2 separate regions of the Homo sapiens genome follow, and region 1 is linked to region 2. Evidence: fine-mapped expression QTL. A gene starts in region 2. The other region holds a variant in brackets. All regions are shown on one strand. Distances are between the middles of the regions. Region 1 overlaps BTRC (beta-transducin repeat containing E3 ubiquitin protein ligase). Region 2 holds the start of POLL (DNA polymerase lambda).

Region 1 (8,337 bases), 130 kb after region 2:
AGAGTAAAAAAAACCAACAACAACCAACCACACATATATAATGAAATAATGCAAACCCCAAACGAAAGTATTTACAAGACAGTCCCTTAAGCATAGTTTGTCATATTGCAATTACACCTTGCCTACTGCCAAGCCAAAGTGCTTACTATTGCCACTAGAGGGAGAAGTGTCTTAACACAAAGCAACGGCAGATAGGGAATGGGTTTTCTCGAGCAATTATCAGAACAAAGCTCCCTTGGCTGTGTGTACCTTCTAATTACTCAATACAATTAAAGTGACTAACCTAAAACAAATAGAGAGAAAAAAAAAAAAAAAACCCTGCCTGCCTGATATCAGGGACTTCATTAAACCTTTTTCCCTCATCAATCAAATCAGAAAGAAGGGAATGCCATCATATATGAACATTACAGAGCTATTAAAGGAAGCAAATTCTGTGTTTTTTTTTTTTTTAAAGGAAGAAAAGGAGCTCTCTTGAAAAAAGAAATGTCTTGGTATTTACCCATCTGGATGCTGCTTGAAAATAAATTGTCCTCCAAAGAACAGAAATACAGTATGTTTTCTCTCAGTTCACTGGCTTATGAATGACTTTTTGTTGTTGTGGTTGTTTTGTTAATACACACTATAATGTCATTTTCTGTGTCAGTGATGTGCTTTTTCCTCCTACTCATCCAACTGTATAAAGGAGCTATGCCCATCAGACTTCCATGCTTATACTGGCTGATTTAAGTTCTTCACTGCTGTTTTTTGTGGATCTACTCCAAGGCAATGTTTAGAACGCAGGAATTTTTTCAGGGGAGGGGAATATGGTAGAAAAGGAAAACAGCTACTTATTCCTTCTAAAAGACTTATGTAGTTCCTTTTATAAGGCCCAGTCATTAACAGAAGATGACAACACAGTCATTTTTCTTTCAGCTGACAATTGTGACATTTTTCCAGCAGCGTGCAAGGTGTTGAAAACCTGGCAGCTGTTACCTCCTGGGATGAAGATACTTTTTTATCCTCCCTTGACAGTCTAACTCAGTGGGTCAGCACCTTTAAAGACTGCAAAGTATCCTTGAAGAGGATGGAAGCTTGAATTACTGCTCCCTCCCTAATCAATGTAAACCCTCACTGCAGGTGAAGTCTCCATCTATAGAGGTGCATGGGGGAGGAAAATGTAATGCCCTGAGCCAGATGGTTTTTATCTTGTTTTTAAAGAATAAAGGAACAAGCTAACAAGGGAGACAGCTACTTTGTTAGCTTCTTGGCCTCTCTCATGGCTTTGCATCCCCAGGGTTCCAGCTACACAAGAGAAAGAATACAGAAAAACCTAAACACTTAAAGAAATATAACTAGAGGGCTGGCATCATGCTGCTTTCAGAGAGTTGAGAGAGCTCTACTCAATGCTTTATTTATCACTGCCCACGTTCTCAGGATGGTAAGTGGACACATACACAAAGGAAATGGGGGATGGGAGAGGGATTAGACAACGGTCACAATTTACTCAATTACAGAGAAAGGCAGGGCTGACAGATCCTATTAGCACCAATGAGAAGCAAAGAGTTGAACGTTGTAATGCCACAATTTTCAAAAAGTAATGAGTACTTTCATGTATCCTCCCAGGCCTTTGCCCTTGATTGCAGATAGGAATAAAAGGTAGGAAAACAGTGGCTATCCTTTCCTTGACTTCACATTTTTAGGAGTAAAACAAAAATTGTAGCTATTTTGTACATCCTTTAAATAAAAGTTCATATTTAATGCCAAGAAATGAGATTATTCTGAAACTAAGAAAATTAACTTTCTTTACAAGGATACACTGCTCTACTTCCTCTCCCTACCCCAAACTCTTCCATCTTCAGATGCTGGAAATGAAACGAAAAAGCAGGTATACAAAATGACTTGGTGACAGACACAGGGAACAGTGTCTCTTAATTTCCACCTTCATTATTTCTTGTTCTGGTAATATCTTTGTCGGGTTTTGGAATTACTGTTATGGTGGATTTTTAAGTCAAGGAGTGTTCTTTCCTTCTCTATTCTGTGAAAGGGTCTGGCATAAAATTCGTATCATTTCTTCCTTAAATATTTGTTGAATTCACCAGTAAAACCACATGTCCCTTCTGATGATTAATTAAATTTATTTAATAGACATCAGGCTATTCAAATTTTGCTTCACCCTGTGTTAAGAGTTTTGGTAAGTTGTATTTTTCAAGGAATTTGTTCAACTTGCCAAATTTTTGGTATAAAGTTGTTTGCTCCTCCAATATTTAAATAGCTCTCCAAATTAACATGCAGTAGTTATGTCCTATCAACAATGGCAAAACGCTATTTTTGAATAATATATGTCAACTATAATATTAGTTAAAAACAATGTTAAATTGCTAGAAGATAACTGAACTTTTTATAATCAATAGTGAGTTTCTGAAATCCCATTAGAAATATCTGCAAAAGAATCTCAAGTTAATGAGATGCAAATCCTACTTGTATCAATACTAGGTATAAGGCGGCCTTGACATCTTTTTGTCTACAGAAGTTGACTACAGGAAAAACAAAACAAAACAAAAACAAAAAAACAAAATAGCAAATGGCACTTCATTATTGTCATATGCAATAGAGAAAAGAGGGAGTTTAAACAGCTTATATACTATGTCCTACCTTAAAAAAAATCAGCAATGGGGTAATCAAGTTCAGGGCAGTCCTGGACAGCTGCCCTGTGACCCGCTTCTATTGACCCCTGCTATTCATCACTCTTCCCTAAGATAGAGAGGGCAAGCTCCTAGGGAGTGACCACCACAATAGACAGACACAAGCCAACAGTAATCTGGTTCGAGCAAAAAACCAGATGGCACTGCAATAAATTTACAAATCTGCATTCATGGGGCTGCTAAAACACCCAGAAGCTAAAAGACTCTGAGGGCCCCAGGAGGATCTCCTACTTCCCTGTTTCTAAAGGCCATTTCTCTTTCCAAGAACATTGAGTTCATGCTCTTCACAAAGAGAATGGAGATAAAACCCTTTACAAAGAAGGGAGGAGAAAAAGCCTCATGACCTAATTAATCTCCAGAGCTTGGATCTCAACACTGAATGACAGATATTAGAAAAATCATTTCAAAGCACCATGGGGGGGGTGGGGGGGAAGGTTGTTAAATTAAAGTGGGCAGGGGGAGTGGGGAAGAGAACCTGCTAAAACGGCAATGAAAAAAACAACATTAAATCTCTTTCGAATATTGCACACAACAGATCTTGCAAGTAGAAAATGATTCAATAATGTATGCATTTATTTTTAAAATGAATCAGATTAGTCCCATGTGTGACCTGCTGGTCCATCTGTATGTGCTGGACTTAATAGGCATGATTCTCTCTCTTGCTTCAGTTTGAAGTATGAGAGAGATAAATTTAGTTTAATTTTCAACAGATCAGCCTATCCATTTTCCAAATGGACCATCTGGATCAGCCTATTAAAATTAATTTATAACTTTGCAGAGAGAAAATTCGTTTGTTAGCTTAAATAAAGTTGCCAAAACTTTTGTTGTGTCATTGTTTTCCGACAGTTGTTTCTGTATAGTGGGCAGAGTGTTCCTACTTCCCAATTTATCTTATTCAGTATTGTCCTATTGGTTTAGATGAACAGATCAGGTGTTGATTCTCCAAACAGTTAAAATTGTAACTGTCTCAACATCAATTACTGATCATTTGTGGATTTTTGTTTGTTTTTTTTTTTAAAGCTTCCTGGATGATTCAATTCTATTTACTAAACAATTATTTTTATAAAAAAAAGAAGTGTTCATCCAAAAAACATTTAACATATAGTAAATTAAAAAATGAATGTGTCACAGTTTCAAGTACTTTCCCTCTAAACACTATATATAAACTGAAGTCAGAAGGCACAAGTAGAAACGCTTTGGAAACACTGAGATCTGAGTATCAAATCACTAATTAGCTAGACAAGTCATCTAACCTCTCTAACCCTCCATTTTCTTCATCTATAAATTGGAAGTCACATCATATCTAAAAACTTTACAGGGTTATTGTGAGGGTTAAATCAAATAAGCATCATGTTCACGGTGGGTGCTCAACAAATATTAGATCTCCTATTTCCTAGAACAATGCTATAAATCCAAGTAAATTAGAATTATTTTTACTGCTGCTCAGGCTCATTGTATCCAATTTTATATTAAAAATGAATACAGGGCCAGGTGTGGTGGCTCATGTCTGTAATCCCAGCACTTTGGGAGGCCAAGCTGGGCAGATCACCTGAGGTCAGGGGTCTGAGAACAGCCTGGCCAACATGGTGAAACCCTGTCTCTACTAAAAATACAAAAATTAGGTCGGGAACAGTGGCTCATGCCTGTAATCCCAGCACTTTGGGAGGCTTAGGTGGGCAGATCACAAGGTCAAGAGTTTGCGACCAGCCTGGCCAACATGGTGAAACCCC[G/A]TTTCTACTAAAAATACAAAAATTAGCCCGGTGTGGTAGTGGGCACCTGTAGTCCCAGTTACGCAGGAGGCTGAGGCAGAAGAGTCGCTTGAACCCTGGAGGTGGAGGTTGTGGTGAGCCAAGATCACACCACTGCACTCCAGCCTGGGCGATAGAGCAAGACTGTGTCTCAAAAAAAAAAAAACCCCAAAATACAAAAATTAGCCAGGCATGGTGGCAGGCACCTGTAATTCCAGCTACTCAGGAGGCTGAGGCAGGAGAATCGCTTGAACCCAGAAGGCAGAGGTTGCAGTGAGCCGAGATCACGCCACTGCACTCCAGCCTGGGCGACAGAGTGAGGCTTTGTCTCAAAAATAAAAATAAAATAAAATAATAAAAATAAAAATGAATAGGTGGCACACTTATTCTCTGGCAACATCATAAGAACTTGCGTTTCTTGTTTTTGCCAAGGACATTCTAATTTTTACAAGAACACAATGGTATTGAACTTTCACAAGTAAAATGTGTTACCTTCTATTGGGGCACAGTGGTGAGCTATTTTTTTTTTTTTTTTTTGAGACGGAGTTTTGCTCTTGTTGCCCAGGCTGGAGTGCAATGGCGCAATCTCAGCTCACCGCAACCTCTGCCTCTGGGGTTCAAGTGATTCTCCTGCCTCAGCCTCCTGAGTAGCTGGGATTACAGGCATGCGCCAGCATGCCCAGCAAATTTTTGTATTTTTAGTAGAGACTGGGTTTCTCCATGTTGGTCAGGCTGGTCTCGAACTCCCGACTTCAGGTATTCGCCTGCCTCAGCCTCCCAAAGTGGTGGGATTATAGGCGTTAGCCACCTTGCCCGGCTGCTGTTTTTTTAAGTTATTATTAACAATGGCCTTTTCTTCTAGAAAAAGCAAACAAAATATTGCTCATACTAAAAGGGCTAACTTTATTACAGGCAGATCTGTTTTTATACTTTTTTAAAAATGCCAACCAGCTGTCCTGTACATGTATACCTAGAATGTTTTTTAAATAACTGGGAAAACCATGTCACCTGATTGAAAGTGATGGCTATGGCCAGGCCAACGTCCGAGTACTCTTAATATAAGCTCCAGTGCTTAAAGAATGGCAAATCAAGGGTTTCCTCCTGTCTTTTGTTTTGCTGTTGGTAGCTTTTTATTTTAAGTAAGGCTGAATTTCATACCTGTCTAAGTGAATTCTTCTCTGGTATTATCTTCCTAGGGGGTTCGCCATTATTACAGTCTTCTCTCTCTGAGGAATTCTGTGAAAGAAAGTAAGCTTTAATTCAGTTCTCATTATCTTCAATCTTATCCTTTGGGAGTAAACTGAATTACATTTCTAATTCTGTAAGTTAGAACATACATATATTTATACAATTATTCACTTGAAGATTTGTATACATACAGATATACACATATGTAAAAGAAAACATATGCCCATGTATATAAATAAATTATGTAAGGATTTAGATGGGAAGTATTTCATGTATCTTTAAGCATTGTGTAGGAGATCATATTCATTAGATCTCTAGCTTGCACTTTGACACAGGTTGACACTGGATACAAGAAAGTTCCAGCCCACACTTAGCTGATGACAACTAAAACCATGATTATTACCTTCTCTCGATTATAGTAGATGTTTGGTTGGCACAGATCTCCAAGTCTGGGTCCTAAAAATAGTTATTTCTCTTCCCCCTCTTCTCAGATTTGATTTTATTTTCTTTGATAAAAGTAGCATAGGACTTAAAAAAACATTTACTCAGTAGTTTAGGATTAGAGTCCATTCCTTGGCACTGTCACCTCAAACAGCAGCTAGAGGCCCTAAAATGTCAGTGGGGTTTTTATATACTTAGGAGGGGGAAAAAAACAACAATCCAACTGAAAATGAGTTCATAAGTACTAAAAATCTGCTAGTCAATATATGTAAATCACTATCTACAAGGCAAAATACAGAAAATCCAAATTACATATTATTTGAGTTCCATTTTCAGCAACAACATTAGTAACATTAATAACATTAATATTTAAAACCCTGCAGTTGTGCTAGGTGCGGTGGCTCACACTTGTAATCCCAGCACTTTGGGAGGCCAAGGCGGGCAGATCATCTGAGGTCAGGAGTTTGAGACCAGCCTGGCCAACATGCTGAAACTGTGTCTCTACTAAAAATACAAAATTAGCCAAGTGTGGTGGTGGGTGCCTGTAATCCCAGCTACTCGAGAGTCTGAGGCAGGAGAATCGCCTGAACCCAGGAGGCCGAGGTTGCAGTGAGCCGAGATCACACCACTGCACTCCAGCCTGAGTGACAGAGCAAGGTTCCGTCTCAAAACAACAACAACAAAAAACTTACAGTTAATATATTCCTTACATTACATATAGTCATAACGTTCTAACAGGAGGGTTAGTTTATTTGTAGGTTCAGAAATTATTTTTAACATGAGAGTTTATCTGAAAATTTTCATACAAGCATGAAATTATTAATATACAATCATTACTGTGTTCTAAACCTACATGTAAATTTCACTTTTTTGGTTTCTATTAGATATTACATTTTGAAAGATACTGAGAGATAAAAAACGTACTGTGTCATTCTGAGGCCCTTTCACCTCTGTGGCTGACACCTGTGTGTCACCTTTAGTAAGCCTGACAGGCCAGTACCCTAATGTGTTTCTTTTGGGCAGAAATATCTTATGAGGTTTAACTTGATATTTTACATTTGTGATGATCCCTTGTAAAAGTCCCTAAAATTAAAGAAAAAGCATGCTATATTACAAAGAAAGGGACAGAGACTCAAGAACTTCAGAGTTCTAACTTCTTTTCCTCCCTGTTTGGAAAAAAAGGAATGGAGATCATCTACCAAAAAATGGAGGAAGGATATAATTGAATTAATGACTACAAAGCTTGACAAATGAGGCGACTGGCAATACATGCTATGTAAGAGTATCAAACAAAGAAAGGGAAAGGTCAACATTTATTTACCCCATAACATCAAGTTGTATGTTTAACTTTTTTTTTTTAAATGTAAAGATCAATGTTTTAAATACCAAAATTAAATGCCTTATATAATAGAAGCTTAAGCCAGTATCCAATTATAAACTTAGAATTTGCAAGTAACTCTCTTTCAGGTCATGAAATTCCTCCTTTAAATAAATAAATAAAAAGATCAGATAAACTAAACCTGTTTAATTCAGTGTAAGATCCTGTATTTCAAAATTAATTATGTTTTTTGAAATGTTATCATATAACTTGGAGCCTAATTACTTTTTGCTGGAAGTTTGTCATACCAAAGATACTATAAATCACATTTTTATTATACAGGTACTTGGGCTGATACACAATTGCTGGCAAACTCCTCTATACTGAATTATAAAGTGAAAAATAGTCATCTCAACCTTAACAGCCTGAGTATTGACTAGCCCATACTCACAATTTTCTTTTTACTGACCCTCTATTTTATCAGATTTAGATGGATAACCACTGGGTGGGTATTATGAAAATGTCTAAAGAATGAAAACACAAAGGGAGCTTAAAGGGTGTTACTAACCTAACATAGAACACAGAGCTTCTTAGGAGTTCCTTTCCCCTTTCTATCCCACTAGGGCAAAGAATATTTAAATGGTATTGTTAAAAATAACTCTTAAACAAAAAATGGGGGAAACCCATAAACATTGGTATGTTCTTTTAATACAGATTAACCCAACACTTTTACTCTGGGCCATCCATCATGAGAAATCAAATCAAACAAAAAATCCAACTTATAATGTTGTTACAAAAAAATAGAGGTAGGGACATTAAACAGTCATGATATCAGGAACAAGGATTAGGAACCCTCCTAATACTAAAGAGTAGAAGCAGAATGCCAGTGAATGAGATTACTAGGTCTACAGTCTTGAGGGTAAGGGGTAATGATGAAATAGCCATGTATACCTAAGTAGTC
Region 2 (8,337 bases):
TGATCTCGGCTCACTGCAACCTCTGCCTCCCGGGTTTAAGCAATTCTCCTGCCTCAGCCTCCTGAGTAGCTGGGACTACAGGTGAATGCTACCACACCCAGCTAATTTTTGTATTTTTAGTAGACACAGGGCTTCACCATTTTGGCTAGGATGGTTTCAATCTCCTGAGCTCGTGATCTGCCCATCTCAGCCTCCCAAAGGGCTGGGATTACAGGCATGAGCCACCACGCCCGGCCAACTGAGGCTTTTTTTTAGAGTGTCTTGCTCTGTTGCCAAGGCTGGAGTGCAGTGGTGTGATCTCGGCTCACTGCAACCTCTGCCTCCTGGGCTCAAGTGATCCTCCACCTCAGACTCCCGAGTAGCTGGGACCATGGTTGCACACCACCATGCCCAGCTAATTTTTAAATTTCTTTGTAGAGATGGGGTCTTACTATGTTACCCAGACTGATCTCAAACTCCTGAGCTCAAGTGATCCTCCTGCCTTGGCCTCTCAAAGTGTTGAGAATACAGGTGTGAGCCACCACGCCTGGCCCTTAACTTTGTTTAAAGTGGGTTTTCCCAAACAAGTGTTTTTGTTTTTTAAGAGTGTCTGGCTATGTTCCCTAGGCTGGAGTGCAGTGGCTATTCACAGGCATGATTATAGCACACTACAGCCTCAAACTTCTGGCCTCAAGTGAGCTTCCTGCCTCAGTTTCCCCAGTAGCTGGGATTACAGGTACCCAACACAGGTGTTTAGTTTTTATAAAGCCAACTATATATTTTCTTTCTTTGTGGTTACTGCCTTAGAAGTTGCACTCAGAGCATCTTCCCTTACCCAATGATTATTCGATACTTATCTATACTTTGTTTTAATAGTATATTTATTCTAGAAATAAATGTATATATAAATTATTAAGTATATTAGTATATTTTTGTAAAAGAAAAATAACTGTGAGTGTATGCATGAAATAATATAGAAGTTTATGTATAAAAATATAAATTATGGGCTGGGCGAGGCGGCTCACGCCTGTAATCTCAGCCCTTTGGGAAGCCGATGCAGGCGGATCACCTAAGGTCTGGAGTTTGAGACCAGCCTGGTTAACATGGTGAAACCCTGTCTCTACTAAAAATTAAAAAAAAAATTAGCCGGGCTTGGTGGCGGGCGCCTATAATCCCAGCTACTCAGGAGACTGAGATAGGAGAATCGCTTGAACCCAGCAGGCAAAGGTTGCAGTGCGCCGAGATTGCGCCATTGCACTCCAGTTTGGGCAACAAGAGTGAAACTTGTCTCAAAAAAAAAAGTAAATTATGATTATCTGGGTGGTAATATTATATTTGACTTCTTTATTTTTCATATTTCCACAATGAATGTAATTATTTCTTAAAAAAACAAAAGTAAAATGGAGTCTCATTATCCAGCCCAAGATATCAATAGCCATGATTCTTGGTGGAAGGGAGTAACCTCCCCCCTACTCCCCACACCCCTCCTACACACCCAGGGGTAAATCTGCAGGTTTGACAAGGCTTAACCACATATGCAATACTGAGTTGTTTTTCAGTCTGGGGATAGGGTGGAATCTTAACAATATCATTTTGTGATGCTACTAACAAAAGAACTTAACAAAATCCTGGCTGATAAAATATTTGTTTAAAAACTTCTGTGACCAAAAACAGTGAAAGCAGGGACTCAAGTGGATATTTGTATACTCATGTTCAGAGCAGCATTATCCACAATACCCAAAAGGTGGAAGCAACCCAGGTGTCCATCAACAGATGAATAAATAAACAGAATGCAGTGTAGACATACAATGGATATCACTCAGCCTTAAAAAGGAGCAAAATTTTGACACATGCTACAATATCCATACCTCTGTGCCCACCTCTTCCAGGCACAGCCCTTGGTCCTTGCTCTATCTCCCCTAAAAACACAGGGAACATTTAGAGGTTTACTTTATGAACGATATTACAGCTGGAAAGGATCCAAACAAGTAAAGGGGCCAACTAGAGATCCTGTGGTGAATTAATGGCACAGCTGGAAGTATCCAACTGTGGCAACATGGATGAACCTTGAAGCGTTACACTAAGTGAAATACACCAGTTACAGAAAGACAAATATTGTATGATTCCACTTAGACGAGGTTCCTAGAGCAGTCAAATTCATAGACAGAAAGTAGAATGGTGGTTGCCAGGGGATGGGAGGAGGAGGGAATGAGGAGTTGGCATTTGGTGGGTACAGAATTTCACTTGAGCTGAGTGTAGTGGCACATGCCTGTAGTCCCAGCTATTCAAGAGGCTGAGGTGGGAGGACTACATGAGCCTAGGAGTTCAAGGCTGCAGTGAGCTATGATCGTACCCCACAGCCTGGGTGACAGAGCAAGACCCTGTCTCTAAAAAAAAAAAAAAAAAAAGAATTTCCGTTGAGAAAGATTAAAAAGTTCTGAAGATGGTGGTGATAGTTGCACAACAATGTGAATGTACTTAATGCCACAGAACTGTACACTTAAAAATGATTAAAATGCTAAATTCTGTTATGTATTTATTACCACAATAAAAACAAAAACCACTGTCCTATGAGAAAATGTCCTAAATCTTTAGCAAGGCATAAGAGATCTATCACAATATGTCCCAACTTATCTGTCATCTCTCTTCATTTTCCACAACTTCCCCTCATTGCTCCTTGAGAAAAGGGACCTTTTTATTCTCGCTTCCATCCTGGCACCTAGAATAGTACCTGACATAGTTATAGGTGGTTTGTTCTGACTGAGTGACTGCTTTAACATTACTAAACATTTTGTTATTCCTCTAGTAATCAGGCACGTACCTTCACACCTTCACATAGGGTCCTTATATGTGAGTTGTTCTTTGAATAGCTATCCCCTCTTCTTCACTCAGCAAACGCCTATTAATTCTTTTTTTTTTTTTTTTTTCCAGTTTTTTTGAGACAGGGTCTCGCTCTGTCGCCCAAGCTGGAGTGCACTGGCATGATCTCGGCTCACTGCTGCGTCTACCTCGCTGGCTCAAGCGATCCTCTGGCCTCAGCCACCACAAGTAGCTGGGACTACAGGCATGTGCCATGATGCACGGCTTATTTATTTTTTTGTCTGAGACACAGTCTCACTCACTCTGTCACCCAGGCTGGAATGCAGTGGTGTGATCTCAGTTCACTGCAACCTCCATCTCCCGGGTTCAAGCGATTCTCCTGCCTCAGCCTCCAGAGTAGCTGGAATTACGGGTGCGCACCACCACACCTGGCTAATTTTTTTGTATTTTTAGTAGCGATGGGGTGGTTTCATCATGTTGGCTAGGCTGGTCTCGAACTCCTGGCCTCAAGGGATCCGCCCACTCGGCCTCCCAACATGCTGGGATTACAGGCGTGAACCACCACATCCGGCCATAATTTCCGTATTTTTTGTAGAGATGAGGTTTGGCCATGTTGCCCAAGCTGGTCTCGAACTCCTGAGCTCAAATGATCCGCCCACTTTGGCCTCCCAGAGTGCTGGAATTACGGGCGTGAGCCACTGTGCCTGACCTTATTAATTCTTTAGGACCCAGAAACATCATCACTTCTGTTGGGTCTTCCTCCAAAGAGATGTCACTTACACCTTCACTCTTTCCTACCATTTTATACAAGACTACAACCTCTATTTAACGCTTCTTATTATTTAAGTACATGTTTTTCCCAACCACTCTGAGTCCTGGGACAACATATCTTTTTCTTTCTGTTCTAGTTTAGAGCTTGGCACATAGTAAAAGTCTTCCTAAATGTTGCACGAACGAGTAAATGATTTTAATTTCCACAAACTCCAGGCTTCCCTGATTGGCCCCTGCCTGTGAACATGAGTCACCAGTTGTTATCTTGAAAGCCTCAGGAACTTCAGACGCAATTCATCCTGGCTACCCAGTGGGTCCAGAAAGGACCCAAGTGCACAAAGGGGCCGGCATCGGCCAATCCTAGGGTGGGGAAAAGTTAGGTATCCATGCCCCTGTGCCCACTTCTTCCAGGCACAGCCCTTGGTTCTTGCTCTAGCTCCCCTAAAGACACAGAAAATATTTAGAAGTTCACTTAACAAAAATATTACAGCTGGAAAGGACCTCAGAGATAACAATGGTAGTCCATCCACTTCATTTTATAGATGAGGAAAGTGAGGCCCAAACAAGTAAAGGAGCCGACTGAAGCGCCCGTGGTGAATTAATGGCACAGTCGGAACTAGAGCCCAGGCCTCTCTCCTCTCTAAAGTCTAAAACATTCTTGGATTTCAGTTTCCTCTTCTGTAAAACGGGGTGAAAATTAGCCTCTCAGGACAGTGGTGAGGAGCAAATGAGATAATGAATGTAAAAGAAATTACTATATTAGCAACAGAAATCAGAGCGGAGCGAGATGGTGTAGAGGAATCTAAGGGGTGTCCGGAGACATGTGTTCCAGTCATGTCATCTCTGTGAACCTCAGTCTCCTCATCTGCAAATGCAGGACCTGGCCCGGCTGACCGCCGAGACCCTTCCAGCTCTGCCGACCCAGGCCCTGAGGCCCTTCCCGGAGGGCCGGACCCTGAGGGAAAAAAACGAAGGAGCCCGTGGGGACCCTCGAGTTACCGTCCTGCAGCAGCGCAGTCTTCTGGGCTGTCCGCAGACTCTCCAACCAGCCCGTCACCGCCATCTTTCCCCTGCTAAGCAGCACGCCCAGCCGCTGCCATGGCAACCGTTCCAGAGGGTCACTTCCGGCTGACTCGGAAGCTATTCTGGCCATTTGCCCTCCTTCCCCCCTTCGTCCGCTCTCATTGGCTCTGCTGGTAAGTGGTCTATTCCTGCCCACCCCCGGGTGACTAGCTTGGCCAGTAGTCGACCCCACCCGGGGACCGACTCTGGGGGTTGGAGAGACTCTTGGGGCCGGGGTCGGGCACTCCAGCTTTCTTCTAGCCCCGAGCTGGGATTCCCTGGCCTGCGCCAGCTGCGTACACGGCGAGTACACCGCACCTGCCCGGGACTTCACCCGCAGCTGCGAGACTCCTCCATTCCCGGAGGGCTCCCCACACCTGCTGCGGCCGTGCCCCATCTCCCCGCAGCTGCGGCGCTGAGCACCCCCATGTCGAGAGGCTGAGACCAGGACAGGTGCAGGGCGTTCCCACTCACCCCCGAAAGTCCTCCTCCTTCCTCTGCGAGTCTGTGTTGGAGGTAGAGAAATAGTATGTGGGGTTTATGTGCAGGTCCTCCCCAGGCTCCGCTCCATCCCCTAAAGCTCCATTTCCTAGCCCAGCATCCCATTTGGTAAAGCCCTTCGAAGTGGGCCGCAGCAGGGCTGTGCTGAATCTTTAGCGCAACCCCTCTGAGGAATGGTGTCGTTTCCTACTCCTCAAAAGTACCCCCGATGGCACCAGCCTTCCCCTCATTTCCCGTAATACTCCAACTTCGAAAGGCTGGGGAGTGTGAAGCTAGGCTAAACCACTGAAGTTTAACCGGGTTTGAAGAGACCCCCTCCCCCGACCCGCTTCCCCAAACTGGGCTGCTACCCCCAAAGCCTGGTCAGGAAAGACCCTACCTCCATAGGCAAAGGGGTTGGAGGGCCTCAATTCTGGATTTCCACGTGCAGCAGCCCTGACCAACGCTCCAATAGGCCGGGATCCAGCCATACTTCAATGGATCCCAGGGGTATCTTGAAGGCATTTCCCAAGCGGCAGAAAATTCATGCTGATGCATCATCAAAAGTACTTGCAAAGATTCCTAGGAGGGAAGAGGGAGAAGAAGCAGAAGGTGAGCTGACCCAGTCTCAGAACCCTCGTGTGCTTGAACCCACAGCCTTCATGTGCTTCAGCCCTACGTTGTTTATGTCCAGAATCAGATATTGGAGCTGACTCTGCCTGTCCAGGGCCTGCAGGTCTGTTTGTATCTACCTTGTGCTAAGCTTGGTCCTGGGTCTTGGACAGGCTATTTGCTGTGTTACCTTCTTTTCTACCCGAAGACCTCTATCCATCAGAAAAGACTCCCTGGGCCCTCAGGGAATGACCAGTATAATTTTTGCCCTGAGGACTGGGACAGAAACCCCCCTCCATTACCCAGGCTTGTTGTTAGTTGTTTTGCAGCCAAATTGGCAAATAAATGGCAGAGGCTTTGGAGGCAGGGTTGTCGGGTCTGTCAGACTGTAAGGGCAAGAAACGCGCTTTGTTGAAAGAATAAATGATAAAGGATTCAAAGTATGGAGAGAGGCTGGGCGCGGTGGCTCTTGCCTGTAATCTCAGCACTTTGGGAGGCCGAGGCAGGCAGATCACCTGTGCTCAGGAGTTCGAGACCAGCTTGGGCAACATGGCGAAACCCTGTCTCTACTAAAAATACAAAAAATTAGCCAGGCATGGTGGCACACGCCGGTAATCCCAGCTACTCGGGAGGCTGAGGCATGAGAATCGCTTGAACTCGGGAGATGGAGGTTGCAGTGAGCCAAGACGATGCCACTGTACTCCAGCCTGGGCGACAGAGTGAGACTGTCTCCAAACAAAAACAAAACAAAAGAAAACAAAACAAACAAACAAAAAACAAAGTAAGAAGGGAGGAGGCATTCATTAAACAAATATTTACAGGTTACTTACAATGTGCCAGACACTTCTAGATTGCACCAAGGAACAGGACGTATGAAAATCCTTGTCCCTTACATTCAAGTGCTGGCCTGTGAGAAAATTTGCTATATGTAGAAGGAAAGCTGTCTGGATGGAAGGGAAATGCTTATTTTCAGGGTAGGGGACTGTGAACACGTCATTCAGATCATGTTAGAAGTTATGTCGTGGCCAGGGGGTGGCAGATAAAAATTAAAAAGTTACAACAGTAGTCATCTGGATGTTCCTTCCACAGAGTGGCTGAGCTCCCTTCGGGCCCATGTTGTGCGCACTGGCATTGGACGAGCCCGGGCAGAACTCTTTGAGAAGCAGATTGTTCAGCATGGCGGCCAGCTATGCCCTGCCCAGGGCCCAGGTGTCACTCACATTGTGGTGGATGAAGGCATGGACTATGAGCGAGCCCTCCGCCTTCTCAGACTACCCCAGCTGCCCCCGGGTGCTCAGCTGGTGAAGTCAGCCTGGCTGAGCTTGTGCCTTCAGGAGAGGAGGCTGGTGGATGTAGCTGGATTCAGCATCTTCATCCCCAGTAGGTGGGCTGATCCCAGTCTTTTTTTCAAATGTTTTCTAGTAGCATCTTGAGCTCTTTTCTTGAATTATTAAAAATAACTATCATTAATTAAAAAATTAGCCAGGCATGGTGGGGTGTGCCTGTAGTCCCAGCTATAAGAGGTTTAGGTGGGAGGATTGATTGAGCCAGGGAGGTTAAGGCTGCAGTGAGCCTTGATCGTACCACTGTACTCCAGCCTGGGTGACAGAGCAAGACCCTGTCTCAAGAGAAACTCCAAAAACCTCAAAAAACTCGTTTTCTTAATTGGACACACTGGGAAACCAAGTATTTCAGAGTACAGAAGGACTGGGGACAGATACAGGGTGAGACCTTTGGTGTCTTAACCTCCCATCACCATCCCCACAGGTACTTGGACCATCCACAGCCCAGCAAGGCAGAGCAGGATGCTTCTATTCCTCCTGGCACCCATGAGGCCCTGCTTCAGACAGCCCTTTCTCCTCCTCCTCCTCCCACCAGGCCTGTGTCTCCTCCCCAAAAGGCAAAAGAGGCACCAAACACCCAAGCCCAGGTCAGGAGCCTCCCATCCCTCAGAACTCCCTTCCCCTAGGAAGCAGATCACAGAAATGGGGTGGGCCTGGTGGCTGTTCAGAAAGTCCCAGGCCCCTGAGAGAGGAGGGCTCTATTGTGAAGCCATTTAGCTCTTCCCAACACTCATCACTGCTGCATTTATCTAGGCCATATCTAACACATACCACTGGGGATCCTAGGGCTAGGCACTGCGTGGAGCCAAAGGGAACGTGGCCTCACACCCAAGGAGATCCAAGTCTGATGCAGAAGGCCCCGCCTCATTCTTAGGTCTGACTAGAAGACCCTCCCCCCGCACAAAGAAGATGACCCCCACCTTTAAGGATCCCTTCTCTTGGAGAACAAGAATTTATTGTTTTCTTTTCTTCTCTATCCCAAGCCCATCTCTGATGATGAAGCCAGTGATGGGGAAGAAACCCAGGTTAGTGCAGCTGATCTGGAAGCCCTCATCAGTGGCCACTACCCCACCTCCCTTGAGGGAGATTGTGAGCCTAGCCCAGCCCCTGCTGTCCTGGATAAGTGGGTCTGTGCACAGCCCTCAAGCCAGAAGGCGACCAATCACAACCTCCATATCACAGAGAAGCTGGAAGTTCTGGCCAAAGCCTACAGTGTTCAGGGAGACAAGTGGAGGGCCCTGGGCTATGCCAAGGCCATCAATGCCCTCAA

Evidence for each region. PIP is the estimated chance that this variant, and not a neighbour inherited with it, causes the effect. A credible set is the group of variants that fine-mapping cannot tell apart.
Region 1: its variant is the best candidate, but not a certain one, in a credible set for the expression of POLL in whole blood (INTERVAL, PIP 0.56).

Annotation. Positions count from the first base shown.
Region 1 is chr10:101,459,309-101,467,645 of GRCh38, reverse strand. BTRC (beta-transducin repeat containing E3 ubiquitin protein ligase) reads right to left here. Exons shown (of 15, transcript NM_033637.4): 3 at 5,588-5,665. Among named protein-coding and RNA genes, the nearest start is that of BTRC, 110 kb to the right of the region's middle. The variant G/A (reference allele first, on the strand shown) is at 4,412.
Region 2 is chr10:101,584,633-101,592,969 of GRCh38, reverse strand. POLL (DNA polymerase lambda) reads left to right here and starts at 4,713. Exons shown (of 9, transcript NM_001174084.2): 1 at 4,713-5,148; 2 at 5,564-5,724; 3 at 6,814-7,108; 4 at 7,492-7,654; 5 at 8,051-8,337. The coding sequence starts at 5,610. It overlaps DPCD (deleted in primary ciliary dyskinesia homolog (mouse)), which reads right to left and starts at 4,649. Exons shown (of 6, transcript NM_015448.3): 1 at 4,570-4,649. The coding sequence starts at 4,633. RefSeq lists enhancers at 4,364-4,693, 4,794-5,073.